Regions from separate parts of the Homo sapiens genome. Here region 1 is linked to region 2. Evidence: fine-mapped expression QTL. A gene starts in region 2. The other region holds a variant in brackets. All regions are shown on one strand. Distances are between the middles of the regions. Region 1 overlaps VWA3A (von Willebrand factor A domain containing 3A). Region 2 holds the start of SDR42E2 (short chain dehydrogenase/reductase family 42E, member 2).

What was found. PIP is the estimated chance that this variant, and not a neighbour inherited with it, causes the effect. A credible set is the group of variants that fine-mapping cannot tell apart.
Region 1: its variant is the best candidate, but not a certain one, in a credible set for the expression of SDR42E2 in hippocampus (GTEx, PIP 0.79).

Annotation. Positions count from the first base shown.
Region 1 is chr16:22,130,319-22,146,619 of GRCh38, reverse strand. VWA3A (von Willebrand factor A domain containing 3A) reads right to left here. Exons shown (of 34, transcript NM_173615.5): 18 at 15,341-15,415; 19 at 14,891-15,035; 20 at 13,525-13,720; 21 at 12,182-12,252; 22 at 8,108-8,260; 23 at 6,376-6,466; 24 at 4,928-5,038; 25 at 3,855-3,952; 26 at 2,236-2,373; 27 at 276-384. Among named protein-coding and RNA genes, the nearest start is that of SDR42E2, 24 kb to the left of the region's middle. The variant C/G (reference allele first, on the strand shown) is at 7,703.
Region 2 is chr16:22,153,529-22,169,829 of GRCh38, reverse strand. It overlaps SDR42E2 (short chain dehydrogenase/reductase family 42E, member 2), which reads right to left and starts at 7,324. Exons shown (of 13, transcript NM_001394319.2): 1 at 7,266-7,324; 2 at 4,193-4,283; 3 at 3,396-3,580; 4 at 2,831-2,926; 5 at 328-385. The coding sequence starts at 4,247. VWA3A (von Willebrand factor A domain containing 3A) reads right to left here. Exons shown (of 34, transcript NM_173615.5): 32 at 14,166-14,263; 33 at 13,914-13,979; 34 at 12,866-13,798. The coding sequence ends at 13,928.

The DNA.
Region 1 (16,301 bases), 23 kb after region 2:
GTAGAGACGGGTTTCATCATGTTGGCCAGGCTGGTTTCGAACTACTGACTGGTGATCCACCCACCTTGGCCTCCCAAAGTGCAGAGATTACAGGCATGAGCCACCACGCCCGGCCTCCCAGTGTCATGTTGTATGTGGATGATGTTCCTGGCCTAATCCTCTGATCTGCAGTTCTTGAAGGCCTGGCTTTGGAAGGACTGACACTGGGGTCCCTGGGGCTAGCCTTCTACATCCCCTCATGCTCCTCCACCCTTCAGGGCAGTGGGCAGGCTCACCGGACAGCAGCCACTGCAGCCTCTGGACATAGCGCCTTAACACCTTCTCCAAGTGCCTGATGTACACCTCCATCTCCCTGGGCGTCCACTGGATGTGTCTCACCACTCCCTGGGTTAAGGCAAGCAGAGGCAAGCACCCACCCCATCAGTCATTTCTTCATATCCCCATCACCCCCTAAAATTGTTTATTCCATTGTGGTTAACAATTCTCAAAATATTTGTTGGCTGGGCACGGTGGCTCATGCCTGTAATCCCAGCGCTTTGGGAGGCCGAGGCAGGAGGATCGCTTGAGCCCAAGAGATCAAGACCAGCCTGGGTAACATAGGGAGACCTCATCTCTACCAAAAACAGAAAATTTAGCTGGTGTGGTGGCATGTGTCTGTGGTCCCAGCTGCTTGGGGGAGGCTGAGGTGGGAGGATTGCCTGAGCCCAGGGAGGTAGAGGCTGCAGTGAGCTGTGATTGCACCACTGCACTCCTGCCTGGATGACAGAGCAAGATCCTGTCTCAACAAACAAACAAAAACCCACAAAAAACAACCATCTGTTAAGTGTATTTTTTTTTTTTGTTTAAAGCCTTTTTTTCTTCTATTAAACTAGTGGATTTATGGTTCTACAAAGGAGTAGGGAATTAAGATTTTTTTTTTGGTAAATGCAGTTGCTATATTAATAAAAATCATAATAATTTCTGATTTTTTTTTTTTTTTGAGACAGAGTCTCAGTCGGTTGCCCAGGCTGTGTAGTGCAGTGGTGCGATCTCGGCTCACTTCAGCCTCTGCCTCCCGGGTTCAAGCGATTTTCCTGCCTCAGCCTCCTGAGTAGCTGGGATTACAGGTGCACAGCACCATGCCTGGCTAATTTTTGTATTTACAGTAGAGACGGGGTTTCACTGTGTTGGCCAGGGTGGTCTCGAACTCCTGACCTCAGGTGATCCGCCCGCCTTGGCCTCCCAAAGTTCTGGGACTACAGGCATGAGCCACTGCGTCTGGCCAATAATCTCTAAATTTTAAAATAGAAAACTCTAAATGGTGGGGTAAGAAGTTCATAAATTTTGAACTGAAAGATGACTTCAGGTGGAGAGGGGCAACATGCTAGAATGACCCTATATTCCTCTAGTGAATAATTTTGAATTTTGTGGCTATTTTTAGTTTCCCCTAATCTTGACAATGTAGGATAAGAGGGCAAGGAGAGAAATGATCAGATTTTCATTCTGTACTAAATTTACTTGTTCCAGTGTCAAAGCAATAAAAAATCACCCCAAAATTAGAAAATAGAAAAGAGAACCCTTCACTTCCTATCACAACCCCTATTTGCTGCCATAACAGAACCATCATCAGTATTGGGGTACAGCATTCTTATGGGTGAACACTTCAGCCACGGCCCAATCTTCTCAGCAATTGCTATTTTTCCTATCTTTTCCTTTTTATGTTTTAAGAGTCAGGCTCCTGCCCCATGGCCCAGGCTGGAGTGCAGTGGCGTGATCACGGCTCACTGCAGCCTTGAACTCCATGACTCAACTAATCCTCCCGCCTCAGCCTCCCAAGTAGCTCGGACTACAGGCACACAGCTGCACCTGGCTAATCTAATTTTTTTTCAGAGATGGGGTCTTGCTATGTTGCCCAGGCTGGTCTCAAACTCTTGGGCTCAAGCAATCCTCCCACCTCAGCCTCCTAAAGCACTTGGTATTACAGGCAGGAGTCACCGCACCTGGCCTCGGCAATTGTTTATAATTCTTATTCCAATGAGCTCATCTAACCCTGGAATGGGATCTTAGGCCCTCTGGGAAGTTGGCTTTTCTTCCAACAGGATTTTGCATCTCCTATTTGGTGAGGGGAGTCCCACTTTGGGGAGGAGGGCAGTTCCTACAAGCAGAAATAGAGGCCACAGTGCCCTACACTGCTCTCTGCCATTTGCAGCTGAGTTGGGGGAGAAAAAAAAGACGATGATGAAAATTGTGACTTACATGGATCTCAACGCTGGGGAAGATGCTGCAGTGTTTGGCGGATGCTGACCTCTGTCCTGACTTTTGATGAGTGCAGTTGGGACCCATGCATCTGGAAATCTCCAGCTTCAATTTTTTGAGCCCATATTTTGCCACCCACTTTAGAATAAAGGAAAGAACTATTATCTTAGGCAATTCAGACTCAACTGAATGATCATCTGACTGGTCTATGAGAACCTCATGTTTGAAACCTGTATGATGTTTGAAATGTGGGATTCCCAGGTCCTCACAGAGCATCCATCCCATGCAGATTCCTTCCCTGGCTTTGGGGGAGAAATGCACAAGAAATATGGGGGTGCAGGCTGGACGCGGTGGCTCATGCCTGTAATCCTAGCACTTTGGGAGGCTGACAGCGGTGGTTCTCAAACTCCTGAGGTCAGGAGTTTGAGAACAGCCTGGCCAACATGGTGAAACCCCATCTCTACTAAATACAAAAAATTAGCCAGGAGTGGTGGTGCATGCCTGTAATCCCAGCTACTTGGGAGGCTGAGGCAGGAGAATCGTTTGAACCCAGGAGGCGGAGGTTGCAGTGATAGTGCTACTGCACTCCAGCCTGGGCAACAAGAGTGAAACTCTGTCTCAAAAAAAAAAAAAAAGAAAGAAAGAAAGAAAGAAATAGTGGGGGTGAAGAACAAAATCTATCGCGCACCTCCCAGACCCTAGTCTAGTGGACACTGTTACTTCCCTAACATCCATTTCAACCCCACCTACAACATTTTTTAGTATATGTGCTGCTGAAGTGAGCACCCCACCTACAATATTTGAGTGGAAAGCCCTGATTGGTCTAAAGCTTAGACTCTAAGCCAATTAGGATAATCTCAGTCTCCTTGTCACAATGAGGGACACAAGAATGGGCAGGCTCAAAGCAGCCAGGGATGGCATCTGCCATCGGCACAATCAGAACCATGCTCAGGCTTTTATTGAATAGCTGTGGGACAACTATCCCCTTATGCACAAGAAGTGGGATTTCTGTTGATTTCACTTTAAAGAATCTTCACATCAATCTTATTTGACTGGCACAATTGTCCTTATTTTACAAAGGCAGTGAGATTGAGTATAGCTAGGTGATTTGCCCAAGGTCACCCAGGCAGGAAGTGGCAGACCTAGATTTTGAATTTAGGTCTATTTAACCCTTATCCCATCTGCCACAGTAAGCAATTGTTCTTATCAGGTTTGTCCTTTTTTTTTTTTTTTTTGAGACAGAGTCTTGCTCTGTCACCCAGGCTGGAGTGCAGCGGCACAATCTTGGCTCACTGCAACCTCCACCTCCCAGTTTCAAGTGATTCTCATGATGTAGCCTCCCAAGTAGCTGGGAGTACAGGTGCGTGCCACTGCACCTGGCTAATTTTTGTACTTTTAGTAGAGATGGGGTTTCACCATGTTGGCCAGGTGGTCTCGAACTCCTGACCTCAAGTGATCCACCCACCTCAGCCTCCCAAAGTGCTGGGATTACAGGTGTGAGTCACTGTGCCTGGCTTGTTCTCATTTCTGATTATGCCCCCCCATCCTAGAAGTAATGGTTGGTGGACAGAACTACTCTATTGCTTAATGGGCATGTGCTAGTATGGGTGACTTAATACCTCTTGGCTTGAGCAAACTGTATCCTTTCTGGGTAAGTCAATAGAAGAGCTAGTCCTTCTCAAGCCCCTTCCTTGAGGGTACTTCTTGTACACTGAGCCTAGAAGAAGCAGAGTGAGGTCATTGCTATAGTTTGGATGGTTGAGCCCCTGCAAACCTCATGAAATGTGATCCCCAGTGTTGGAGATGGGGCTTAATGGGAGGTGTTTGGGTCATGGGAACGGATCCCTCATGAATAGATCAATGCTCTCTCTGGTGAGAGGGTGGGGAGCGAGTAAGTTCTCCCTCTATTACTTGCCGCAAGGGCTGGCTGTTAAATAAAAGCCTGGCACCTCCCCATTTTCTTGTTTCCTCTCTCTCCATGTGATCTCTGCACATGCCAGCTCCCCAGCGCCTTCCACCATGAGTGGAAGCAGCCTGAAGCTCTCACCAGATGCCCAAACTTCCAGCCAGCATAAGCCTGAGCTAAAAAAACCTATTTTCTTCATAAATCACCTAGCCTTGGGTATTCCAAGCACAAATGAACTAAGATGGTCACCCTGTGTACCTCTCTTCCCTCCCCCTGAATCTCCCACTGCTCCCTTTTTCATGTCAATTTCTCTGTCAATCAAGTCAGTTGTAAAAGTCCTTAGTGCAATTTGCTGAGAGGTAGAAAGGGAGCTGTTGGGTGGATGGGGAAAGGCTGTTTGGGACCTCCTGCCTAGCAATGAATTGTTCTTGGGATCTGCACCATTTCACAGCAGTGAATCAGGCTGGCCTAGGGGAATCATCTCCATCCCTTGCCATCTGCCTTAGAGCTAAGGAAACTGCCCCTAGTGGACAGAGCTGGAGTGCCCAAGAATCTCAGGAGGTCTCATCTTCAATATTGACTTCTCTCATTCCCTGGTTGTTGTCAAAACTTTGCATGTCCATTTCCCAGGGCTGGGAGAACTGAGTTGAGTACGGCTTGCTCCAGAGGCACCAGTGCCTAGGTCCTGGGACAGCAGGAGGGGTCTCCTTCCCACGGTACCTGCTGCCCTTACAGCTCCCCCAGGGCCAGGGGGCTGTCCAGACACCTGTATAGCCTCTAACTTACCCACGTCATTCCCTTTCTCTGTGTAGAACAGTAAAAGAGATGTCTCTGCTTCCCTTGACTTGGTCTTCCTCCTCAGTTCCATCATCCCTTCTTTCGTTGGCTGGGCCGCAGCTGAGGAACATTTGGCTTGTTGGCTGGAGCAGCTGCATGCATTCTTGCAATACAGCTGTCCAGCTTGGCTTAGAGACACTCAAGTTCAGCTATACTCCACCCCAGGAAATGGGGCTCCAAGATGGCTTCAAGGCACCCTGTGTCCTCCCCCGCCAGGTCTCTGGCTTTGCTTGGATCAGAAATAGCTATAGCTACCATTTACTGAGTCCAGATCTTTCCCTGGCATTGTGCTAAGTGCTTTGAGTATGCTGCCTTGCTTCATCCTCACAGTCCCCCAGTTTACAGATAAGGTAAGTGGGAATCCACCAGTAAGAGGCAGGGCATGATTCTACCTGGTCCTGCTGACTCCAGAACTCTGCTCTGAGCCACTCTGCCATACCTTTGACATTAGAAATAAAATACATGGTCTTAGGTTCTACGAGCTGAGTACTTTCATTAAGATTGTGAAGGCCTGTTACCACTAGTGGCACATGATCCTTACCCCCCTGAGCCTCAGTTCCTTTGTCAGTACAATAGGAAGCTGATAGAATACAGATGCAAAGGATTGATCATTATAGGCTTTAAATGGGACAATCTTAGCAGATGGGCTGGCACATGATCAAGACTCAGGATCATTGATCGTTTTAGTTACTATCATTATTGCTATTATGATTATTATTTTAAGAGATGTGGCCAGGCGTGGTGGCTCACGCCTGTAATCTCAGCACTTTGGGAGGCCGAGGCAGATGAATTGCCTGAGCTCAGGAGTTGTAGACCAGCCTGGGCAACATGGTGAAACCCCGTCTCTACTAAAAATACAAAAAGTTAGCCAGGCGTGGTGGCACACACCTGTAGTCCCAGCTATTCAGGAGGCTGAGGCACAAGAATCGCTTGAACCCAGGAGGTGGAGGTTGCAGTGAGCTGAGATGACACGACTGCACTCCAGCCTGGGTGACAGAGCGAGACTCTGTCTCAAAAAAAAAAAAAAAAAAAAGTAGAGACAGGGTCTTGCTCTGTCACTGAGGTTAGAGTGCAGTGGTGCAATGATAGCTCACTGCAGCTTCGAACTTCTGGGCTCAAGCAATCCTCCCAACTCAGCCTCTGAGTACTTGGGGGACTTCAGGCATGCACCACCACATCTGGCTCCTTTTTTGTTTGGTAGAGATGGAGTCTTGCTATGTTGTCAAGGCTTGTCTTGAACTCCTGACCTCAAGTGATCCTTCCACCTCAGCCTCCAAAAGTGCTGGGATTATAGGCACGAGCTTCCACACGTGGCTCTAGTTACTATCATTATTAACCCATGCCTCAGCCGTGACCGTGACATCCCTCCACCCTGCCTGACCGTGATGGTGCCTTACCTGGTGAGATGCCAACTCTGCTACTGAGTGGACGCCATTTCAGAGATTTCAGCGGGGGGCTCTTCTCTCTGTCAGGGTCATCTTTAATGCTCTAGAAAACAGGCAATCTTTCCCATCAGAGGAGTGTTCCCTGTGTCACGCAGGATCCCAGTTACCCTGACCTCAATTTGTCAATCAGGAACTTTTGTAGGGAGGAGCCTAAGGGAGGGGACTCCTCAGACAGGTTTGGCCCCTCTCCTGCAGCAGATTCAGAAGGGACTCTGGGTTTTGAGGTGAAAAAGTATGGGTGTGTACATGTGTGTAGGAGTGTATATGTATGTGTGTGCATGTGCATATGTGTATGTATGCATGTGTGTGTGTGTGAGATGAGAGTGAGAGAGCTGCTAGTGAGAGAGCTATGGGGGTTTGCCAGAATTTTTTTCATCAGTCACCTGCCCCTCTTCCTAATGGACTGGGATGTCTGGGCCTCCAGCATGACAACAGAAATTTAGGTAACTTCTGTGCCTTATCAGGCACCTCAGTTTTTTTTTGTTTGTTTGTTTTCTTTTTTGAGATGGAGTCTGGCTCTGTCACCCAGGCTGGAGTGCAGCGGCGTGATCTCGACTCACTGCAAACTCTGCCTCCCAGGTTCAAGCAATTCTCCCTGTCTCAGCTTCCCGAGTAGCTGGGATTACAGGCACCCGCCACCACACCCGGCTAATTTCTGTATTTTTAATAGAGAGGGGGTTTCACCATGTTGGCCAGGATGGTCTTGATCTCTTGACCTCATGATCCGCCTGCCTTGGCCTCCCAAAGTGCTGGGATTACAGGTGTGAGCCACTGCACCTGGCCCAGACACCTCAGTTTTAAGGGAAGAGTTCCTTCATTCTCAGCCACGACTGGAGTGTGGCGGTCATTAAACAGTCACTGTCTGGGGAGCACCCGGCCTGGTTTCAGGAGGCACTCAGGAAGCACTGAAGGCTCAAGAGGCAGCCTCTGAGGAGGGGGCGAAGTGCCTGAGCTGGCTCCTGAAACCTGGCAGAGTTCCCCGAACGAGGGCAGAACCCGGCTGCACAGGCTCTCCTGGAAAGGCAGCCCTTTGGCTGGAAATCTGCTACCTACTGTCTGGGATGGATTTCCACATTCTGAACATGGGCTGTGCTCACAGGGTCTGAGTCATGCAATGCTGAGGGACTCACAGGTGTCCCTCCCAGTCTGCTCACAAGCACAGGTGCCTCTGGGGTCTGTCCTCTAGAGCCCTTCTGATTGCCAAGGTGGGTGGGTATTTTATGGAGGACAGAATTGATAGGCTGTGAATGAGGATAAGCCCCTAGCAGGCTCAGCCCAC[C/G]CTCAGGCTCCTATCAGCCTCTGCAAAGTCTTGGGTGGCAGCGGGAAGAGCCCTTAGAGACCATAATTCCTTTGCCCCCGAGAGACTCTCCAGGATAAGCCATCAGATGAAACAGGTGGGTGTCAATTCTGTGGCATCCTCAGTACCAGGGTAGGGAAAAGGCTGGGATAGGCTGACAGAGCCAAGGGTGGGTTGGGGGAGGACAGAGGACCCCGAGAGCTGAGGAGCCGGCCCCCCGCGGGAGATTTTCCCCCTGGAGGCCTGGGCAAGAGGCACCCACAGGACACTCACCACTGAAGCACCCACCCCCATCCCTGCTGGCCCCAGCCATTTTAAGACCCAGGAAAGACCAGAAGACAAACAGGAAACCAAATCTTCTGCGTGTTATTAGGAGGGGAGTCAAACCATTCTGGCCCCCAGGGGGACGGTGGGCCTGGGAGGGCAGAGCTTCTTGGGCTGACTTCTTAGCTGAAGTGTCTTTGGTTTTTCTTTCGGGAGGGCTGAACTTCCCAGTACTTTTCCTGAATGGTTCTTCAGGGAGGCCATGAGGAAGGCACACTGCAGTGGGATTGGGAGGGTCAGTGGCACCCCCAGCCACTGTGGACACACACACACACACACACACAGCAGGAGGGACTGTATCCACTGGAACCTCTGATGTCCCCTGGACTCCTCTTTTTGTCCCTAGAAAGCCACCTGGGGCTGAAAGTGCTATGGACCAATCCTATGAACAACAGTAAGACCAGGTATGGGGGCCTGGGAGGCACAGGCTCTGGGCTAGTGAATACTTGGGGGTCTCCAACCCTCATGCCAACAAGTCACATCAGCTATGCCGATAGGGTAGGTGTGTCGTCTCCCCATTTTACAGATGAGGAAACCAAAGCTCTGAAGCTGTCATCACAGAGTTAACAAGAATTCTGGACAAAAATCTAGTTATCATGAAGCCCTGATCAGGCTGCACATAGCCCCACTTCTTTGTAACCTAAAGTCACATAGCACCAGATCCTGGCTGTTTGCATCCCCGTTGTTCCTCTAGATAGGATTTCTGACTTCAGAATCACAAGGCTTTTGTTTAAGAATTGCTTAAGATGTTTTTCAGACCCGAATTCCAGCAAAGCAGCTGATGCCAACAGTTTGAAGACCCCCAGAGGAACAGGAACAGCATGAGAACACAGCTTCTTCATCTCCCCTGCCCATGACTCCAGCCTGCACTCAACTAGTCAGTGATCTCCATACTTCAGCCCACTGCAAAACCCTTAAAAACCTTAACACCAAATTTGAGGTTCCCTCCCATCTCCTTGTTTGGCAGTCCTATAATTAAACTTCTTTTCTCTGCTGCAACCCAGTGTCTCTGTGCATTGACTTGCCATGCATATCTGGCCACAGATCTATTACAGTTACAGCTCTGTGAGCTTAAGGTTCTCATCTAAGACCACCTTATCAGTGTGTAGAGAAACTTCAATTCAAACCAGGTGGGTCTGTTTCCAAAGCCAGCACCCTTCCATTATGAGACACTGTGGCCTCCACTTGTGGGCCAGTCAGCTTGCCGCATGCCAGGGCTGATTCCAGATGCTGGCAGACTAATGGTGTAATACTCAATGCCTTTTGCCTACGATTTTCTCAACAGCCTGACTGGTTCCCCAGCAATTATTCTCAATCAAAGCTCCAGAAGACACCATTCAAATGTAAATAAGCATCCTCTGGAAAGGTGAATTATGCGGTCATTGCCCATTAACACCATATGTATCAGTTTATCTGATGAGGGAATGGGACTATGTGCACCTGAGGGTAAGGGATATTTATTTATTTACTTACTTATTTATTTATTTATTTATTTATTTATTTAGAGACAGAGTCTTACTCTGTTGCCAGGCTGGAGTGCAGTGGCATGATCTTGGCTCACTGCAATCTCTGCCTCCCGGGTTCAAGGATTCTCCTGCCTCAGCCTCCCAAATAGCTGGGATTACAGGTGCGCACCACCACACCCAGCTAATTTTGCGTGTGTGTGTGTGTGTGTGTGTGCGTGTGTGTGTGTGTGTGTGTATTTTTAGTAGAGACGGGGTTTCACCATGTTAGCCAGGATGGTCTCGATCTCCTGACCTTGTGATCTGCCTGCCTCAGCCTCCCAAAATGCTGGGATTACAGGCATGAGCCACTACGCCCAGCTGGGAAGAGATATTTTAAAAGCACCAAAAGGGTCCCTTTTGGGGAAGACAGCACAGGCACGCAGGGGGAGCCACAGATCTGCAGATCCAGTGGCCACAGAGGAATAGAAGATGGAGACGTGGCCCTGCCCTCCCAGGAGTCCACAATCCAGTCTGGGAAGTGAGTCCTTCTGCAAGTGGTGGAGTCCAGGAGTCTCCTTCACAGGCTCCTCCACTCCACTGCCTCGACCACAGCCTTGCTAAGTGCCCTCTGTCCGTCACTGTGGCTTGAACTGCCCTAAATCTCCATCTCCAGCCATGTCTTTTCCCACCTGCCTGTAGGGTACCCTCACTTGTTATCTCACAGGCTCCACAAACTCACCCTTGTCCCAGACCCGCCTTCCCTGCACCTCTCCGTCCTTCCATGGGCTCTTCCTCCTGTTTTCTACATCTTGGTCAATGGCCTCACTGTCTACTGGGTGCTCCAGTGAGGAGCGTGGGGGTCAGTTTGTATGTTTTCTCTTTCACACTGCCCGTTCAATCACTTGCAAGTCCGGGGAATTCTTCCTTAGATAGTCATTGCTCCTCACGGGATCTGGCTCCTAGCTACCTCTCTCATTGTATCTTGTCCTGCTCAACTCCTCTGAGGAAGTAACATTTTAGTGTGTCTAAACTAACTAATAGGCTAGGTGTGGTGGCTCCCGCCTGTGATCCCAGCACTTTGGGAGGCTGAGGCAGGCAGATCAGCTGAGATCAGGAGTTTGAGACCAGCCTGGCCAACATGGTGAAACCCCATCTCTACTAAAAAACACAAAAATCAGTCAGGCGTGGTGGCGGGTGCCTGTAGCCCCAGCTACTTGGGAGGCTGAGACAGGAGAATTGCTTGAACTCAGGAGGCAGAGGTTGCAGTGAGCTGAGATTGCACAATGGCACTCCAGCCTGGGCGACAGAGTGAGACTCTGTCTCAAAAAAACCCCCAAAAAACAAAAAACAAAACCCTAACTAATGATAAGGAGCAAGCCATGAAAGGTCTGGGATGGGAAGGACAGAGGAAACAGCAGGTGCAAAGGCCCTGAGCTTAGGAATGGGTTTAGCAATAACCTTGACGTGTTTAAGGAACTCAAAGGAGGCCAGAATGTGCAGCACACAGACCTAAAACCAATGGCTTCTAGGAGACACTCATTTCTTCTGAAGCCTTGGGTCTCAGTGGATTAGGACATGAAGAGGGAAGCTGACATGGGATGAGGTGTGTCCCCCAAAAGGATATGTTGAAGTCTGAACCCTCAGGACCTGTGCATGTGGCCTTACATAGAAATAGGGTCTTTGCAGATGTAATTAAGATACAAATTACGGTGAGGCATATTGGAGTAGCGCAGGTCCTTAATCTAATCTGATTGTTGTCCATGTAAGAGGAGAAGGGATGCACCTGGAGGGAAAACAGCCATGTAAAGACAGAGGCAGAGACTGGAGTTATGCTCCTCAAGCCAAGGAATGCCAGAGATTGCTGGTGACAAGGACTGCCTCCTTGACCGAACTTTAGCCGGCTCCTCTAAGCCATCTTCTCAATGAGGCCTTGACCTTGGCCTGCCGAACTCAGTTTTGGCAAAGAATTTTGCTAAGTCAGTTTAGTGAGACCTGTCCCATCCTTGATATCCAAGCAAGTTCTTCATCTCCCATCTGAGATACCTTTTTTAAAAAAATTATTTTAAAAAAATTCTTTAACAGAGATAGGGTTTCACCGTGTTGCTGAGGCTGGTCTCAAACTCCTGGGCTCCAGCGATCAGCCCACCTTGGCCTCCCAAAGTGCTGGGATTACAGGTGGGATCCACTGTGCCCAGTTCTATTTTTGACATCTAAGCCTTTGGTCTGCCTTTAGCAAGAGCCCTGTTTAACAAGAATCCTTTTATCTATCCTATCTATCCAGTTCTCTTAGTAATTTTTCCATCCACTGACTGCTCATTGGCTATAAATCTCCAGCTATCTTTGCTATTATTTAGAGTTGAGTTCAGTCTCTCTCCCCTATTGCAATAGTCTTAAGTAAAGTCTTCCTTGCCATTTTAAAAGAGCAACCAGTGCAATTAAAAACAAACAAACAAACAAACAAACAAACAAACACCAATTGCCACCAGAAGCCAGGGAGGGGCAAGGAAAGATTCTACCCAAAGCCTTCAGAGGGAGCCTGGCCCTGCTGACACCTTGATTTCAGACTTCCAGCCTCTGGAAGTGAGAGAATCAATGGTTGTTATTTTAAGCCACCCAGTTTGTGGCAGTTATGGTAGCCCCAGGAAATGAATACAAAAGGCAGTGCAGTCATTGGCCCATGCCCAGGGCATACCTTTTGGGAGTAGTTGAGAGCCTTTTCCATCTCAGACATGATGGAGTTGATGTCATCGCTCTCATAAATGCCTGGAAACAAAGCACATCGTGAGCAAGGTGAGACAGGGTGTGGATCCTGGCAAGCGTCCCCATCATCTGGATACTAGAAAGCCACCTGGAGGTGACTTGAGGGCTGGGAATGGTGGCTTACTCCTGTAATCCCAGCATTTGGGAGGCTGAGGAGGGAGGATTGCTTGAGGTTGGGAGTTCAACACCAGCCTGGGCAATATAGTGAGACCCCTTCTCTATAAAAAAAAATTTAAAAAATTAACTGGGCGTGGTGGTGGACACCTGTAGTCCCAGCTGCTCAGGAGGCTGGGGTGGGAGGATTGCTTGAATCCAGGAGGTTGAGGCTGCAGTGAAGTATGATGGCACCACTGCACTCCAGCCTGGGTGACAGAGGGAGACCCCGTCTCTAAAAAAAATGTTGCTTTTTGTACCATGTACAACTATCTTGCCAACCATGTGCTGTGAACACACCACCCTTTGAAAAACAATCTAAGGGATGTTCAGGGTGCCTTCTAGCTCTGACATTCTATGACATTCTAAATTATATATTTTTTAATTTTTAATTTTTTTGTAAAGGCAGAATCTTGCTATGTTGCCCAGGATGGTCTTGAACTGGATTCAAGCAATCCGCTCGCCTCAACTTTCCAAAGTGCTGAGATTACAGGTGTGAGCCACCACCTGACTCATAATATACTTTTAGAGTTTTACTTCTTCTTCTTCTTTTTTTTTTTTTTTTTTTGAGACAGAGTTTTGCTCTGTCACCCAGGCTGGAGTGTAGTGGTGTGATCTCTGCTCACTGCAACCTCCGCTTCCTGGGTTCAAGCGATTTTCTTGTACCTCAGCCTCCCGAGTAGCTGGGACTACAGGTATGTGCCATCACACCCGGCTAATTTTTTTGTATTTTTAATAGAGTTTCACCATGTTGGCCAGGCTGTTCTCAAAGTCCTGATCTCAAGCGATCTGACCACGTTGGCCTCTCAAACTGCTGGGATTGTGGGTATGAGCCACTGTTCCTGGCCTACTTCTTTTAAGTTAAAAAAATTGCAGTAAAATATACATAACATCAAACTTACTATTTCAATCACTTAAAATTGTACAATTCAGTGGCATTAAGTGCATTCACATTGTTGTTCAACCATCACTGCTATCTATCTTCAGAGGAACAGTTTTACATTTTAAAATGTGATTTTCACAAGCTGCTTTTCTGGAATACATCTGTGGTCTAAGGGAGCTATGCTGGTGCTGAGACAACTGTTTGGAATGAGCTGAAGGGATGAGGAAACAGTCATGTACCTGTGTCTCCAAACCAGTGGAAGCGGCCACCTGCAGCCCGGGTGACCTCCTTGTAGGCGGCGGCTGTGTCAGTGTGACTGGCATAGCGGGCAGGGGGTGTGGTGTCCATCTTTGGCTCGCCCACGTAGAAGAGACACACGTTCAGCTGGAGGTCGCAGCCGCCACAGGCCTCAGCCATGTAGGCACTGAGTGTAGGCTGGTGGGGAAGAGAAGGTAGGAGGGGCCAGCAGCTGAGGGCCTTGAAGCTGTGGGGCTCTGGGCAGCCCAGCCTGGCCATGTTTCTCCAGGGCCTTCTCTGTGCCTGGTCCAGTCCTTGGCACAAGGATGGAAAGAGATGAGGCTGGGTTGCAGTTTCTCTCAATATTTTAACAGAGTGTGGTTGGGGAGCTGGACCTGAGAGCCTCCTGATACCAGGCATGTTCTAGACCAGTAGCATCCACATCCCCTGGAAGCCTGCCAGAAATGCAGACTCCCAGGCTCCACCCCAGACCTACTGAACCAGGATCTGCACTATGTAGGTATGTATGTATGTATGTATGTATTTTAAAGAGACAGGGTCTCGCTCTGTTGCCTAGGCTGGAGTGCAGGGTCATAAACATAGCTTGCTGCAGCTTTGACCTGCTGGGCTCAAGCAATCCTTCTGCCTCAGCCTCCTAAGTAGCTGTGACTACAGGCACATGTCACCACACCTGGTTAATTTTTTTTTTTTTTTTGAGATGGAGTTTCGCTTTTGTCGCCCAGGCTGGAGTGCAATGGTGTGATCTCAGCTCACCGCAACCTCCCCCTCCAGGTTCAAGCGATTCTCCTGCCTCAGCCTCCCGAGTAGCTGGGATTACAGGAATGTGCCACCACGCCCAGCTAATTTTGTATTTTTAGTAGAGATGGAGTTTCTCCATGTTGGTCAAGGTGGCCTCAAACTCCCGACCTCAGGTGATCTGCCTGCCTCAGCCTCCCAAAGTGCTGGGATTACATGCATGAGCCACTGTGCCTGGCTACATCTGGTTAATTTTTTAAATTTTATTTTTGTAGAGATGGGGTCTTGTTGCTATGTTGTCCAGGCTGGTCTCGAGCACCTGGGCTCAAGAGATCCTCCCACCCCAGCCTCCTGAGTAGCTGGGAGTACAGGCATGTGCCACCATGGCAGGTTATTTTAAAAATTTTTACAGAAATGTGGTCTCACTATATTGCCCAGGCTGGTCTCCAGGGCCTGCATTTTAACAGCATCCTTAGGTGCTTGTCTATACATTAAAGTTTGAGAAGCACTGGTTTAGAAATCATGCTGCAGAAACCTTGGCAAGGTATCCACCTGGGGGAAGACGGATGAGGTCGCAAAGGATAATGGACACCCAGGACGTGGCCTACCCACCATGTCCTGGTCGGGGATGCCCCCAGTGAAGAGGTAGATTCCCTGCGATTGGTGTTTGTCTTTGTCCTTGAAGTCTACTTCCACAGCCTTCCGCAGGGCGCTGAGAACGTTCCTGCTGCCCCGACACCGCAGGTTCAGGGCCCACCTGCGGAGGCAGAGATGGCCATGCTGAGGGTCATTGGCCCATGCCCAGGGCATACCTTTTGGGAGTAGCTGAGAGCCTTTTCCATCTCAGACGTGATGGAGTCGATGTCATCACTCTCATAAAGTGAAGATGGCCAGGTGGGGAGAGCAGCAGACAGAAGGAAGCTGTTTTCTGATTTCTGCCCATGGCTGTTTGGGGTCAGGGACTCTAGAGAGCTACTTCTTGGTGGAGAGGGGGACAGAGAAAACAATGCCTGCAAACCTTCCCTCAGACACAGCCCCACGAAGTCTCTGCCCATAACCTACCGCCAGGCACTTTGTAAATTGTTGTGACTCACGGGAACCATCTCAGGCCTCCAGCTTTCAATTGTGCTTCCAAACCTTTAAGAAGCAAAGAGAGTTCGTTCTTAGGCTGGGGGAGGTCCACTTGGTGGCCCACCTCTTTGGGCTTTGCAGGCTTTTAGTGGGGACAAAATTCTGATGAGATCCCCTAAAATGTGAGGATGTCACTGGCCTGGGCCAGCCATGAGATTTCCTTGTGGGTCATATGTCCCAACATACTTCAGCCAAGACACAGTGTGAGCCAGCTTTGGTCAGCTTCCTTTCTGAAGCATTGAGCTATGGCGTGTGGCCCCCTCTTTAACCTCCCCTAGCATGGCTTCTCTCACTGCACATTTCCCCTCCCTATCCATACTATAGTTTGTTTTTTTTTTTTAAATACACATCTATGTAATCAACAGGATTTGGCAAAGAAAAAAAATATACCTCTAGCCTGGGCAGTATAGCAAGACCCCATTTCTACAAAATAAAAAAAATTAGCTGGGTATAGTGGCACATGTCTGTCAACCTAGCTACTTAGGAGGCTGAGGTGGGAGGATCACTTGAGTCCAGGAGGCTGAGGCTGTAGTGAGCTATGATTGTGCCACTGCACTCCAGTCTGGGCAATGGAGTGAGATCCCATCTCAAAAAACAAACAAATCCTCAAATCCAGAAAACCCACATTGTCTCATTTGTCCTGTAAGACAGAATTTAAGATCTTTGAGAAGAGGATTTATACCCTTTATGAAGGAAAAGTTGTCCCCTCTCTAGTTTGAGATTAATTCCTCCACCTGGCCTTTGACCTCATCACCCATCTCTTCTGAGACTTTGCCCCACAGTTCCTCCCTCACATCCACACATTCCCAACTTCTCTCCACTTCCCTCTGCCCCGCGCCTCTCTACCTGTTTCAGACTCTCTATACTTAACAAGAACATCCTCCTTCCCCTG
Region 2 (16,301 bases):
CGAACTCTTGACCTCAGGTGATCCACCCCTGTTGGTCTCCCAAAGTGCTGGGATTACAGGCATGAGCCACCACGCCCAGCCAGCTTCGGCAACTTTTCTTTTTCCAGTCCCTAAGCCCTGAGAGGTAACTCTGGTCCCCATGTTCCCAGACATGCTAAGGCCACACTGACACACCCATGCAGGGCCCTGGGGAGGTCTGCAGTGCACGAAGGATGCGCTGCCCACAGGCCCTCCCTTTGACCCTACACCCTGGGAGCCAGGCCTGCAGCAGGAGAAGGGAGAGAGGGGGAGAGGCACAGCAGGTCATACCCGGCTCTGAGCACCTACCATCAATCACTAGTTTGGTGCCTCCAACATTTATAGACTCAATCTGCTCTTTCTGCAGCTAAAAGACAAGACAGGTGAGAAAGTCATGGTGCTACCCATGCCTTCTTGCTGAGGCTGGAAGGCTGAGCTTGGGGTCAGGTGGGACAGGGCAGCAGGATGTTCAGTTCAGAGGCAGGGATCCCGAAGGCCCACCTGGAGTGTGGGTGCCTGGCTCTGCCACCATCTTCCTGGGTGGCCAGAGGAGGTTCTGCCCACACATCTGTCCCTCAGCAACCTCATTTGTAAAGTGAGGGCCAACCTCCTCCCCTGGGTGGTGGGCGGGACTCAATAAGACACTTGAGAGGACCTGGTACAGTGCCTGGCACAGAAGATGGGCTCAGAACCTGTTGGGTCATTTTCCTACTCTCAAAGCCTCAGTTTCCCTATCTGTAAGGTGAACATGGTAATATGGGCTGGGCCCTCACGAGGGAGCTGGGATGTGAAAAACAAAAATTAGGCCGCTGTGAGGGCTCCTGTGGGCCAGGAACAGGGCAAGAACTTCCTGATCCATGATCTCATTTAATTCTCATCACACCAGGAGATGAGCTCCATGCTTATTTTTAAGCTATATTTATTATTATTATTTTTTTGAGACCGAGTTTAGCTCTTGTTGTCCAAGGTGGAGTGTAGTGGTACAATCTTGGCTCACTGCAACCTCTGCCTCCCGGGTTTGAATGATTCTCCTGCCTCAGCCTCCCAAGTAGCTGGGATTACAGGCATGCACCACCATGCCTGGCTAATGTTTTTGTATTTAGTAGAGATGGGGTTTCATCATGTTGGTCAGGATGGTCTCAAACTCCTGACCTCAGGTGATCCACCTGCCTTGGCCTCTCCAAATGTTGGGGGTACAGGCATGAGCCACTGCTTCCAGCCTATATTTATTCTTTTAAAAATTTTTGGCCAGGTGTGGTATCTCATGCCTGTAATCCCAGCACTTTGGGAGGCCGAGGTGGGCGGATCACTTCAGGTCAGGAGTTTGAGACCAGCTTGAGCAACATGGCAAAACCCCATCTCTACTAAAAATACAAAAATTAGCCAGGTGTGGTGGCGTGCAACTGTAATCTTAGCTACTCAGGAGTCTGAGGCAGAAGAATCGCTTGAGCCTGGGAGGTGGAGGCTGCAGTGAGCTGAGATCATATCACTGCACACCAGCCTTGGTGACTGAGCGAAACTCCGTCTCAAAAATAAATAAATAAATAAAAATAATAAAATTTACTTTTATTATTTTTAAATAGAGATAGGGGTCTCACTATGTTGCCCAGGCTGGTCTCGAACTCCTGGGCTCAAGCAATCCTCCCACCTTGGCCTCCCAAAGTGCTGGGATTACAGGTGTGAGCCACCACACCTGGCTCTATATTTATTCTTGTTGTGGCTGTTTTTGTTTCATAGGCAACACGATCAAGGTTAAAAAGAATTCAAACAGTAAAATGGGTGTATAGTGAAAAAGAAGGTTCCCTCCTACTCCTGATTCCAAATCTTCCTTTTCCCTCCCCAGAGGCAGCCACTGTTAAATTTCCGGTGTTTCTCGAGATAATCTATTCTTATTAATATCAGCATATAAGCATGTGTGACTATAGAAATAAATAGTTTCTTTAGCTTTTTTTGGAAACAAACAGGAGAATGCCAAACACTGCTTTGCACCTTGGAAACTATTTTTTTAATCTGCACACTTTGAGTTACCTCTTTCTTTTGAATGGCTGCATAGAATTTGACTGTAAAACACAATTTATTTAAATAGTCCTCAACTGATAGGTTATTTCTGGTGTTTTGTTATTAAAAACAATGCTGCAAATACACAAATGAGTGTAATTTCTGAGGCAACGGGTATACATATGTTTTGGTGGATACTATTACATTGCTCTCTGAAGAGGTTGTGATATTACCAATAGTAATATCCTCACTTTCCAGATGATGAAAGAGGATCAAAGAGGTTAAATAAACTTGCCCTAGATAACACAGTTATAAAATGGCAGAAATGGGGCCGGGTGCGGTGGCTCCTGCCTGTAATCCCAGCACTTTGGGAGGCCAAGGCGGGCAGATCACCTGAGGTCAGGAGCTTGAGACCAGCCTGGCCAACATGGTGAAACCCTGTTTCTACTAAAAATACAAAAATTAGCTGGGCGTGTTGGTGGCACCTGTAATCCCAGCTACTCAGGAGGCTGAGGCAGAAGAACCACTTGAACCTGGGAGATGGAAGTTGCAGTGAGCTGAGATTGTGCCACTGCACTCCAGCCTGGGTGACAGAGTGAGACTCAGTCTCAAAAAAAAAAAAAAAAAAAAAAAAAAAAAAAAAAAAAATGGCAGAACTGGTATTTGGTGTCATGGATGCAGGATGCAGGGTGGGAGTAGCCCAAGTCCCTCCTATAATAGGTGAAGCATGATAGGGAATGCATGGGTGTGAGGGCAGAGCCAGGACTGGAACCCCACTCTGTCTAACTCCAGGTGTTGTGTGTGAGGAGCCCACCTTCTCAGCCCCGGACATTCCATAGGAAGCCACGTGGAAGACACAGTCCACCCCTTCGAAGGCACGGTACAGGGCTTCTTCATCTCGGACATCAGCCTGCACCAGAGGAAGAAGAGATGAGGGCAGGGGGTTCAAGTCCAAGGCAAGAGATAACACCTCTGCACCTTGCCTGGTCTCAGAACTGGCCCCCTGACCCAGCCCAGGCCAAGCCTCTGTAGCATCAGGAAAGGCTGGTGGGGCAGGATTCACTAAATGATTCTACAGGGCACCGTGAGCAACATCCCGTGCTCATTCATCACGCTCTGTAGGTGACAGGGGCTGTGCTAGGTTTATGTGCACTGTCTCATCAACTCCCAATGAGACCCTGTGAAGTAGGTGTTGGTTACTATTGTCCCCTTTCTGTGACCATAGCTACCCAGCTGGTAGCACCAGAGCCAGAGCTATAGCTCAAACAGTCTGGCTTCAAACAGTGTGCCCCTAAACTCCACACCACAGGTTTCACATCAAACACTGTCCCCTGACCATCACCACTGCCCCAGTCTATTAAGACCCTTGTTCCTTGTACCTGGATGAACTTGGTTTCCGGGGACAGTTCCCACTGGGGTCTGCGGCGGTCAAGCAGAATGACGGAAGTGCCGCTCTTGGCTAGGTGGGATCCCAGGCTGAAGCCCAGGTAGCCTCCTCCTCCAGTCACTAGAACCTTCTGCCTGGCAGCCTTTGTAGGTTTGGCTTGAGTCTTCTGCTGCGGCGCTGGTGTTGGGGTTGTTGTTGACTCACTGGGTCTGGGCCCAGTCCCAGACCCCTGTCTGAGCCCAGGCCCTAGCTCTGGCTCAGGTGTAGACCCAGCTCCTGCCCCAGGTACTGATCCAGCTCCCGGCCCAGGTACCGATCCAGCTCCCGGCCCAGGTACCGATCCAGCTCCCGGCCCAGGTACAGACCCAGCTCCTGGCCCAGCTCCTACACCAGGTCCCAACCCACCTCCTAGACCAGGTCCCGACCCAGCTCCTGGTCCAGGTACAGACCCAGCTCCTGGCCCAGGTACGGACCCAGCTCCTGGCCCAGGTACGGACCCAGCTCCTGGCCCAGGTACGGACCTAGCTCCTAGACCAGGTACGGACCCAGCTCCTGGCCCAGGTACAGACCCAGCTCCTGGCCCAGGCCCTAGACCTGGTCCAGTCCCTGAAATAGCACCAGGCCTCGGAACAGTACCAGAACCCGCCTGAGGTCCTGGAATAGCTTTGGGCCCCAGTCCAGGCCCTGGAATGGCACCAGGCTTTGGTGCAGGCCTTGACTCAGACCCTGAGCCAGACCTTGGACCTGAGACCTCTCCACAGGCCTGGCAGACAGGGCAGCTCTTCTCACCCTGGCCTGCAGCTTTGCAGGCCTCTAGGGAGGAGCGTGGGGGGTTGGACTTCATCCTCTACTGAGCCATGCAGACCCAGAAACCGACCACCTGTGGGAAAAAAAATAGAAGAAAGAATGCTCTAGAATCGTTTCAAGTCACATAAATTATTAGACCTCTAGGACTGAGGGGAACTCCAGGTGGAAATTAGAAATTCTCTGAGTTCCCAGGGAACCTGCCCCTTTCAGAATCTCAAGAATCTCCAGTGTGGGCCCGGCGTGGTGGTTCACGTCTGTAATCCCAGCAGTTTGGGAGGCTGAGGTGGGCGGATCACTTGAGGCCAGGAGTTGGAGATCAGCATGGCCAACATGGTGAAATCCTGTCTCTACTGAAAATACAAAAATTAGCCGGGTGTAGTGGGGCACACCTGTAATCCCAGCTACTCAGGAGACTGAAGCACAAGAATTGCTTGAACCTGGAAGGCGGAGGTTGCAGTGAGCTGAGATGGTGCCACTGCACCCCAGTCTGGGCAATAGAATGAGACTCAGTCTCAAAAACAAACAAACAAACAAACAAACAAAAAACTCCAGTGTGGCTGCTGTCCTCTGCACAGAGTCAGAGACAAGGCAGCCAAGACTTGGATTTTAGAGCTAAGAAAATTGAGGCCCAAAGTCACGCTGTGTAACTGAGGTTGACATTAAGCATTCCTGACTTATCTACCAGTTCCTTAAAATTCCAGTTTCCATGGAGTACCAAAGGAAGACAGGGCAAATCATCCAGCGGGAACCTCACCAGACTGGGAGGTGGCTGCTTTCTGACTGGGGAGATTGGGAGAGCCTTCTGGAAGAGGAGGAAGAGAAAGAGGAGGAGGAGGAGAATCCACATGGATCCAAAAGGACTCTGCACCCTGGAAACTTGCACATGACTCCAAGTGCTGTGCCTGTCTCCACCCTGATGCCTGACGCCTCTGGTCCTCCAAGGTCCGACAGTAGTGTGGGTGGCTGGTACCACACGTTCTGCCCAATCCCTCTGCAGGCTTTAGGGTCTGGTCTATGGGCCTAGGGGGACAGCACTGAGGATCCTGTTCTTTGCAGCCTCAGACTACTTTCTTTTCTCTGTCGCCCAGGCTGGAGTGCAGTGGCACAATCATAGCTCACTGCAGCTTCAAACTTCTGTGCTCAAGCGATCCTTCCATCTTAGCCCCACAAGCAGCTGGGAATACAGGTGCATGCTACCATGCCTGGTGAATTTTTGCATTTTTAGTAGAGATGGGGTTTCACCATGTTGGCCAGGCTGGTCTTGAACTCCTGACCTCAAGTGATCCTCCCACCTCAGCCTCCCAAAGTGCTGGGATTACAGGTGTGAGCCACCGCATCCAGCTCCCTAGATCTTTTTTTAATTTTTGAGACAGAGTCTCACTCTGTTGCCCAGGCTAGTAGTGAACTCCTGGAACTCAAGCAATTCTCCTGCCTTGGCCTCCCAAAGTGTTGAGATTACAGGCGTTAGCCACTGTGCCCAGCCCTCAGTCTAGACTCAGGGCAAGCCAGGCTGTCAGTCACTGTCACCATCGTCCATCCCCCCACCCCCCTCCCGACCTCCCTCTCCACCTGAGGATGAGGCTGGATGACCAGGGCTAGGTGATCATTAACCGTAACAACAGCAACCATGTGCTAGGGACCTCTGTGCGCCAGGCCCTACATATACAGATAGGTGCATCTCTGCCCTGCATGGCATATACTGGCTGCATGAAAGAACGGGTATTTGTTGAGTGACTGGACTGATGAGCCCCATGTTTTTTTGCTGGTGGTGGTCACAGGGCAGGGACTCTGGCAGCTAGAGGGGCTGTATTTTTAATTTCCTCTGTTACTGCCCTGCTCACCAAATGTCTGGGTGAGGAATACAGTCCTGCCCCGTATAAGCACGAACACTCATGGCTTTATTTATTTATTTAGAGAAGGAGTCTCACTCTGTTGCTCAGGCTGGAGTGCAGTGGTGTGATCTTGGCTCACTGCAACCTCCGCCTGCCTTGTTCAAGCAATTCTCCTCCCTCAGCCTCCCGAGTAGCTGGGACTACAGGCACGCGCCACCACACCTGGTTAATTTTTGTATTTTTAGTAGAGACGGGGGTTTCACCATTTTGGCCAGGCTGGTCTCAAACTCCTGGTCTCAAGTGATCTGCCACCCTCAGCCTCCCAAAGTGCTGGGATTACAGGCGTGAGCCACTGCGCCCAGCCCACTCATGGATTTAATGAGAGAGACTGCAAACCATCATGAGCAGGGGCCTAAATCCCCGAGAGGGAGAGGAGAGGATGCAGCCCCACAGCGAGCCCTCCTCCTGTACTCAGGCCCAGAGGACTCTGTTCTGGGGAAGGGTCTATGGGACCAGAGCTGACTTTCTACCCTAAGAGGATGCCTTTTGTGGCAAAGGCTGGACTCAGCCTTGGATACTCACTTATTGGGGTGTGCCCTTGGGTAAGGGCCTTAAAACCTCACTGTACCTTAGTACCCACAACCGCGAATGGACCCAAATATTTCTGGCTGCTCTGGCTCCTCACAGGGTGGTCATGAGAAAACAGACGCCAGAATGCCTTGCGAGGCTAGATTGCAAAGCTCCAGGAGGATTTCATTCCCTGGAGTGTCCCAGCACCTAGAACAGTGCCTGGCGCAAAGCAGGCGGCCAGCAAATGCTGCTGGGTGAACAAAATCTCTGGGGCGTGTTCGGGATCTGGCTGTGCTATGGTCGCGCGCCAGACCCACCCTGGACATGGCTTCACTCATTCTTTTGGAAGTTCAGTGAAGTACAGGCTATGGTTCCCATTACCCAGAGGTGGAAACTGAGGCCCAGAGAACATGAGGAAACTTTGATGGAGTCACAGACAGTGTCTCCGCCGGAATCCAGGTCGATGGGGACCCCAAAAGCGGGTTTGGTGGAAGGAACTGGCAAAAGGGTGGGGAGCATCAGGGACTGACCCTGAGAGCGCTGGGCTCGCGGGCAGCTCCAGGGTGGGGGTCCCCTCCCCTCTTGGCTCCCTCACCCTCCCTGTCCCTCCAGCACCTGCGTCCCTCCCTGGCCCGCGTCCGGGCTTCGCTCACCTGGCCCGGGCTCCCGCGGCGCTGCGTGCTCCCCGCGCTGCGCCAGTCTCCGCGCCGCCAGGGCCACCGGGCCACCTCCTTCTCCCGAGGAGGGCAGAAAGGGGCGGGGCGGGGCGGGACGAGGCATCCGGACCGCCCCCCGCCCGCTCTTCTGCCCGCCCACTCCCGGCGCGGGAGCACCTGCATTCTCTCAGGTGGAGACCCGCGGGCTCTCATAGAGGGGAAACTGAAGCCAGTAGGGCTGGGATGGGCGAAATGGTCCACGCTTCTTGTGGGAAAAGACGCAAAGGCCCTGCGTGCCGGGCTCTGTCCTGCAGGCCAAGTCGTCCTAGAACCCCAAGAAAAAGGGTTTCATCTATATGTAGGAGCAGAATTGCTGGGTCATATGATTACTCTGTGTTTAGAGAAGAACCGCCAAACTGTTTTCTAAAGTAGCTGTACCATTTTACAATCCTACCAGCAGTGTATAGGGTTCCAATACTTCCGCATCCTTACCAACACTTATTATTATATCTATGTTTAAAATTTTAACTATTCTACTGGGTGTGAAGTGGTGTCTCATTGTGGTTTCATTTGAATTTCCTGATAGCTAATGCTGCTGAACATGTTTTCATGTGCTCATTGGCACATTAATGTGTTTTCTTTGGAGAAGTGTCTGTTCAAATCCTTTGCTCATTTTCAGTTGAGTTATTTGTTGACTTTTAAGAGTTCTTTGTATATTCTGGATACAAATCCTTCATCAGATAAATGATTTGCAAATATTTAAACAAAAACAAAAAACCAAAAAAGTTCTTCCATCATCCATCCTTCCACCTATCCATCCATCCTTCCATCCATCCATCCTTCCACCTATCCATCCAACCTTCCATCCATCCATCCTTCCACCTATCCATCCAACCTTCCATCCATCCAGCCTTCCACCTATCCATCCAGCCTTCCACCTATCCATCTAACCTTCCATCATCCATCCTTCCACTTATCCATCCAATCTTCTCCCTGACCATCCTTCTGCTTATCCATCCAACCTTCCATCCATCTGTACTTCTACCTGTCCATCCAGCTTTCCATCCATCTTTATTTCAACCTGTCCTTTCCATCCATCTGTATTTCAACCTATCCATACAACCTGTCATCCATCCATTCTTAAACCTGTCCATCCAACCTTCCATCATCTATCCTTCCACCTATCCATCCAAATTTCCATCCATCCAACCTTCCACCCATCTAATTCATTACATATATCTTTCTTTCCTTGCTTCTACCCATCTATCTACTCTCCCTGTCTTGCAATCTTCCACTTATCTCTGTTGATTTATGCATCAATCACATCATTCTATTTTGATGGGTGCTTCTTCAGTGCTGGATCATATCATCCTTTGAAAACTCATGTTCAGCTGGGTGTGGTGGCTCATGCCTGTAATCCCAGCACTTTGGGAGGCTGGGGTGGGCAGATCACTTGAGCCTAGGCATTTAAGACCAGCCTGGACAACATAGTGAGAGCCCATCTCTACAAAAAATTACAAAAAAAAATTAGCCGGGCATGGTGGCATGTGCCTGTAGTCCCAGCTACTTGGGAGGCTGAGGCAGGAGGATCACCTGAGCCTGGGAGGTGGAGGCTATGGTGGGCTGTGATTGTGCCACTGCAGTCTCATGCTGGAGAGCTCAGGCAATGGAGTGAGATCCTGTCTCAGTAAAAGAAAACTCATGTTCAAGTGGCAGTATTGGAGGGTCAGGCATGTGCCCAAGAGCTCACAACTGCTGTAATGGAGCCACAGGGGCTGAGAGCAGGAAGGGCTGGTCACTTTGCTCTGAAAAGGGCAACTGAAAAAGCCTCCACCCATACAACACCCTCTGTGGGCATAGGTGTGGGGAAGAGAAAAACAAAATCTTAGTCTGCATGTTCTATGAGCCAGATGGTAAGAGATCTTGTTTAATCCTCACAACTCTGTTTTAGCTCAATTTTAGAGACAGGGAAACAGGTTCAGAAAAGGGGCTCCAAATGTGGTGGGGAAAAGCCATAGGGTCAGTCCTGGATTTAAATCTTGGCTTTGCCACTTTCTTGCTGTGTGTCTTTGAGCAGCTACGAGGCTCAGTTTCCTCATCTGTAAACTGCAAATGATGTGCACTTTATAGTTGTCATGCTGTGAGGTTTATGGCTAACATGCTCTATGCAAAATGTTGAGCATGGTGCTGGCTCAATCAGTGTGCAAACAATGGTAGCTGTTCTCCTCATTACATGGGAGGTTGGGATTTGAACCTAGGTCCTGTCCTTCCCCACTTCATAAGCCATGTGTTTGGTTCAACCTTCCATTCACAAAGGCCAGCCTATTCTTCTCCCACCAACAGGGCCAGAGAACTCATATTCCCCAGTACCAGCTGCTGATATTGTCTTGCAAAGAGAAGCATAACTTACATCTGTGACGGGTTGAATTGTGTTCTTCACAAAATTCATATGTGGAAGTCCCAATCCCATGTACTTAACCCTAACTCTCCAAATAAAGTCACTGCAGATGTAATGAGTTAAGGTCATAGTGGAGTAGGGTGGGCCCCTACTCCAGTATGATTGGTGTTCTTATAAAGAGGGGAAATTTGAACAGAGACATGCACATAGGCAGAGCTTCATGTGAAGGCTGTAGTTATGCTGCCCAAAGCCAAGGAACTACCAGAATGGAGGAGAGAAGTCTGGAACGGATCCTTCCCAGTGTCTTCAGAGGGAGCATGGCCCTGAGGGCATCTTAATCTTGAATTTCCAGCTTCCAGAACAATAAGAGAATACATTTCTGTTGTTTCATCCACTCAATTTGTGGTACTTTGTTATGACAGCTCTAGCAAATGAATACAACCACCACAGGCCCTTTTCTCTGTATTTACAGACGTGACCCAAAATGGCAGCTGTGCAAGATGGACCAGACTGAGATTTACCATGGCAGGGGTTGTGGTCACCACTGCCTTCCTGGGCCCAGCACAGAGCCTGGCCAAAGCAGGGTCTCATCAAGCCTTAGCAAGTGAGTTTCGTTTTTTTTGAGACAGAGTCTCTGTTGCCAGGCTGGAGTGCAGTGGCACGATCTCAGCTCACTGCAACCTCCACCTCCCGGGTTCAAGCGATTCTCCTGCCTCAGCCTCCGAGTAGCTGGGACTACAGGCGTCCACCACCATGCCTGGCTAATTTTTGTATTTTTGGTAGAGACAGGGTTTCTCCATGTTGGCCAGGCTGGTCTCGAACTCCTGGCCTTGAGCCATCTGCCTGCCTTGGTCTCCCTAAGTGCTGGGATTACAGGCGTGAACCACCGCACCTGGCCACAACTGAGTGTTTTTAAACAACTTGATGAATTTTTACTTATGTATAGCTCAATGTAACTCCTACCTTTATCAATATATAGAATATTTTCATCACACCAGATGTCCCCTTTGTGTCCCCCATCCCACAGGGTAACTAGTATTTTGACTTCAATCACCAATAAGGAGTTTGGCTGGTTCTTGAACTTCATATAAATGACTTTATACAGTATGTACTCCTTTGTGTCTGGTTTCTTTTGCCCAATATTATGAGACTGATGCATCTTGTTGAATATAGCTGTATAGATCATTCTTTTTTGGGGGTGCAGGCAGGGTCTCACTCTATTGCCAAGGCTGGAGTATAGTGGCATGATCAAGGCTCACTGCAGCCTCAACCTCTCCTGGGCTCAGGTGATCCTTGCACCTCAGCCTCCTGAGTAGCTGGCACTACAGGCATATGCCTCCAAGCCTGGCTAATTTTTGTATTTTTTTGTAAAGATGGGTTCTCACCATGTTACCTAGGCTAGTCTCAAACTCCTGGGCTCAAGCCATCTACCTGCCTTGGTCTCCCAAAGTGCTGGGATTTCAGGTGTGAGCCACCACATGAGCCGTTCATTCTTTTTAAATTGATGCATAATATTTCACTGTAAAATGTATCAGATTTTATTTGCACATTCTGCCACTGATGGACATTGGGTAGTTTCCAATTTTGAGCTCTAATGAATAAGGCTGCTGGAAAAATTCTTATATGTCTTTTGTCTAACATATGCACTCATTACCCTTGGAGTGGAATTACTAGATCATAGAGTAGGCATATGTTTTACTTTAGTAGAAATTGCCAAATAGTCTTCCAAAGTTATTGAGTCAAATTATACGTCCCTACCCCAACCCCTACCCTAATTGGAATATGAGTGTTCCAACTGTTCCACATCTTGATATTGTAGTTCTTTTTTTGTTCTGTTTTTAGAGACAGGGTCTCATTCTGTTGCCCAGGCTGGAGTGCAATGGCCCAGTCTCAGCTCATTGCAATCTCCACCTCCTGGGTTCAAGCGATTCTCATGCCTCAGCCTCCTGAGTAGCTGGAATTACAGGTGTGCACCACCATGCCCAGCTAATTTTTGTTGTTTTTAGTAGAGACGGGGTTTCACTATGTTGGCCATGCTGGTCTCAAACTTCTGACTTCATGTGATCCGCCCACCTTGGCCTCCCAAAGTGCTGGGATTACAGGTGTGAGCCACCATGCCTGGCCATCTTGTCTTTTTGTTTGTTTGTTTTTAAGAGACAGGGTCTTACTCTGTTGCCCACGCTGGAGTGCAATGGCACAATCATAGCTAACTGTAGTCTCAAACTCCTGGGCTCAACTGATCCTCATGCCTCAGCCTCCTGAGCAGCTAAAACTACATGCATTGGGCCACCATGCCTGGCTAATTTCTTTTAAATTTTTGGAGACATGGGGTCTTGCTATGTTGCCCAGGCTGGTGTTGAACCCCTGGCATCAAGCAATCCTCCCATCTCAGCCTCGCAAAGTGTTGGGATTAGAGGCATGAGCCACTGTGCCCAACCCCAGTCTTTTTTATTTTAGCCATTCTAGTGGGAGTGTAGTGGCATCTCACTGTGGTTTTAATTTACACTTCCCTGGCAGGTAAGGCTGTTGAGCACCTTTTCATGTACCTATTGTCCATTTTAAAAATTGGATGGGCTGGACGCGGTGACTCATGCCTGTAATCCCAGCACTTTGGGAGTCTCAGTCGGGCCGGATCACCTGAGGTCAGGCGTTTGAGACCAGCCTGGCCAACATGGTGAAACCCCGTCTCCACTAAAAATAAAAATAAAAAAAATTAGCTGGGCGTGGTGGCAGGCACCTGTAATCCCAGCTACCCTACTCGGGAGGCTGAGGCAGGAGAATCGCTTGAACCTGGGAGGCGGAGGTTGCAGTGAGCTGAGATCGTGCCACTGCACTCCAGCCTGGGCAAAAAGAGTGAGACTGTGCCTAAAAAAAAAAAAAAAATTGAGATGGGCCAGGCACAGTGGCTCACGCCTATAATCCCAGCACTTTGAGAGGCCAAGGCGGGCAGATCCCCTGAGATCAGGAGTTCAAGACCAGCCTGGCCAACATAATGAAACCCTGTCTCTACTAAAACAAAAATTAGCCAGACGTGGTGGCAGGCCCCTGTAGTCCCAGCTGCTCAGGAGGCTGAGGCAGGAGAATTGCTTGAACCCAGGAGGCGGAGGTTGCAGTGAGCCGAGATTGCACCACTGCACTCCAGCCTGGGCAACAGAGCGAGACTCTGTTTCCAAAAAAAACAAAAAAATGGATGTTTATCTTTTTCTTATTGAAATTCTTTATTATGGTATGAGTCTTTTAATAAAGTTTTATGTCACTAAAAATTTATGCACACACACACACGCCAATGATCACTTCAAACAGTTAAAGTCATGTTGATCCTATTAGTAGAATAAAATTAATTGTTTTTAATTTTAGAAAATGAACCCAGATGAGCAGCCTTCACTTCAGTTTGGTTGGGCAGGGATGGAGGGTGGTGCTGAGGCTCACTTGTTTCTTCTTCCCCCAGGATGGGCTGACTGTGACTCTGCATTAGCCTCTTATGAACCAGGGTGGAGACCACCCCATCAGCTGCTTTCCAGAGCTAGGCTCTCACAGCTCAGCCGCCTGCTCACTGTTCACCATGTGTCTCCTATGTGGCAGCTTCTGGGGACCTGCAGATCCTGGGACACCAGTCTCATCCCGAAGGAGCTCACCATCAAGGAGAAGAGTTAGATCAGCGAGCAAGGTGGCGTGACATAGAGTGCTGAGTGCGAGAGGTCTGCGTGGTCAGGATGCTGCAAGAGAAAGACTGGAGGCCCCTCGCTCTAGATAGGTCCCAGGGAGCTGATGTCATTTGAGCTGTGCCTTGATGGATGAGCAGGAGTCTCCAGGCAGAGGGGGCAAGAAGCACCGTTCAGGCAGGGGGTTGGTTTGCAAGAAGCACCACCATTTAGGCAGGGGGTTGGTTTAGGGCTTCCCAGAGAGGGACAATCTAGTGGCTGGAGAGTAGAGTGCGCTGCGGGACAGGGCTGGAGAGTTAGATTAAGACCCGGGAATGGCCCCTCACACAAAAGACAAAGTCTTTCCTTCCTCAGCTTCCAGAGAGTCCTGGTACCAGGAATCATGTTTCCTGCAGGTCACAGCATTTCATCCCATCCTGCCCTCGGGGCTGAGATTTGCTCAGTGAGTGGTCCTTTGCAGGATGACTTTTCTGTTTAGAGGAATCATTATTTTTTAACCAAAGTTATTATTGACCACAAAATAGAGCATGCCACTTGGTGCTTAGTGCACACTCAGGTAGTATGGGGTCTAGCCCCTCCCCTTACCTGAGAACACTTCTCTAGGAAAGAGTGACCTTTGGTTCTGCATCATTTTTCTTCTGGAGTTGGGATCTGGTGGGCAGGAGATGAAGAAAGATGGTCTCCCTGGTGCCCAGATTTCTGGGCTGGCTGGGAGAAGCAGGGCAGGAACCCTTGGAGCAAGGGTACCATCATGGGTGCGGCCCTTCTCGATGGGGTCCGGGGTCTGCATGGGCTGTAGCCACATGGCAGGCCGGAGAGGCTGCGTGAAGGGCATACCTGAAGGATTGGGCCTGCCAGAGGAAGCTTCTGGCCTTGGTGATCTCCTGGGCCAGGATCCTTAAATCATCTCCTTCAAATGGTGGCAATGTGGGATCCTTGAAAAGAGGAAATGAGTGTGAAGTTTATGACTGGATGGGAGCTGAAAATCCAAAATCTCAGGAAAAGCATTTTAGAGCTAATCACGTTCTGGTTTCCATCCAGTGCAGGAAATCTTGTGAGCCTCTGCTTGTATATCTCCAGGGTCAGGAAGCTCACTACCTATCAAGACAGTCATTCTGCAAAGGGGAAACTTTGAAATATGGTGTCTGAGAGTCAGTGTAGGGAGGGGACGGTGGCAAAGTACGATGGTGTCAGAATCTGAGTGAAAGTGGCCCCACTCTGGTCCAGTGGAACAGAAATGACACCGTTTCCTTATCTCAGCGCTATTCAGTAGAATCTGTTCAGCCATTTTTTGCATTTCTTCTAGTGAAGTAGACTTACAGGTATGCTTTTTATTTGGTTGATTTTAGAGACAGAGCCTTGCTCTGTTGTCCTGGCTGCAGGGCAGTGGCGTGATCACGGCTCACTGTAGCCTCGACCTCCTGGGCTCAAGCTATCCTCCCACTTCAGCCTCCCAAGTAGCTAGGACCACAGGCATGTGCCACCACACCTGGCTGAGGCATGCTTTTTTTTTTTTTTTTTTTTTTTTTTTTTTTTTTTTTGAGACGGAGTCTCGCTCTGTCGCCCAGGCCGGACTGCGGACTGCAGTGGCGCAATCTCGGCTCACTGCAAGCTCCGCTTCCCGGGTTCACGCCATTCTCCTGCCTCAGCCTCCCGAGCAGCTGGGACTACAGGCGCCCGCCACCGCGCCCGGCTAATTTTTTGTATTTTTAGTAGAGACGGGGTTTCACCTTGTTAGCCAGGATGGTCTCGATCTCCTGACCTCATGATCCACCCGCCTCGGCGTCCCAAAGTGCTGGGATTACAGGCGTGAGCCACCGCGCCCGGCTGAGGCATGCTTTTTAAAAAAAATGTTAACTAATAAAATTTCGCCACCTATCCTTAAAAATACATCTTACCAATCCCAGCGCTTTGGGTGGCTGAGGCGGGTGGATCACTTGAAGTCAGGAGTTTGAGACCAGCCTGGCCAACATGATGAAACCTCATCTCTACTAAAAATATAAAAATTAGCTGGGTGTGGTGGCAGGCACCTGTAATCCTAGCTACTCGGGAGGCTGAGACATGAGAATCACTTGAACCCAGGAGGCAGAGGCTGAAGTGAGCTGAGATCATGCCACTGCACTCCAGCCTGGTGACACAGCAAGACTTCATCTCAAAAAAAAAAAAAAAAAAAAAAAAGAAAAAGAAAAAAGAGGAAGCCATCCCTTCTGCCTGGCAGTAGTAGCACAGCAATCCCATTCTGCATGCAAAAACAATTCAGAGAATCTGATTGGATAAGGAATTAAGCTGAGAGCCTTAAACATATCATCACTTGTTTTCCTGTGTAATAAGGACGCTTGGGTGAATATTCATTACTTTTACCAATTTGTTCAGTTCTCTGTATTATTTATAATACTTGTCCCTAGAAGAGCTAGTTGAACCAAAGGAGTCATGTAAGGCTACCCAGGCTTCAAAGATTATGCCAGCCGAGCCTGACGGTTCACACCTGTAATCCCAACACTTTGGGAAGCTCAGGCGGGAGGATTACTTAATCCTAGGAGTTTGAGATCAGCCTGGGCAACATGGTGAGATCCTGTTTCTACAAAAAATTAAAGAAATTAGCTGGGCGTGGTGGCACACCTGTGATCCCAGCTACTCTGCAGGCTGAGGTGGAAAGATTGCCTGAGCCCAGGAGGTGGAGGCTGTGGTGAGCTGTGATTGTTCCTCTGCACTCTAGCCTGGGCAACAGAATGAGACCCTGTCTCAAAAAAAAAAAAAAAAAAATTATGCCATGTCCTGTGAAAGTAACCTTTAACCTCTGAAAAGAAATCTGGAATTCTGATTGGTTGTCTTACTTGATAATTTGTTGCGCTGGGAATGTTATCACTGACAACATTGCATTCCTAAAAGGTATAAATAAGTGCAGAATTTTCCTATTAAGTCAGAAGTGGATCATTGAAATCTATGACTTTACTAGACTTATTACTTAATAGA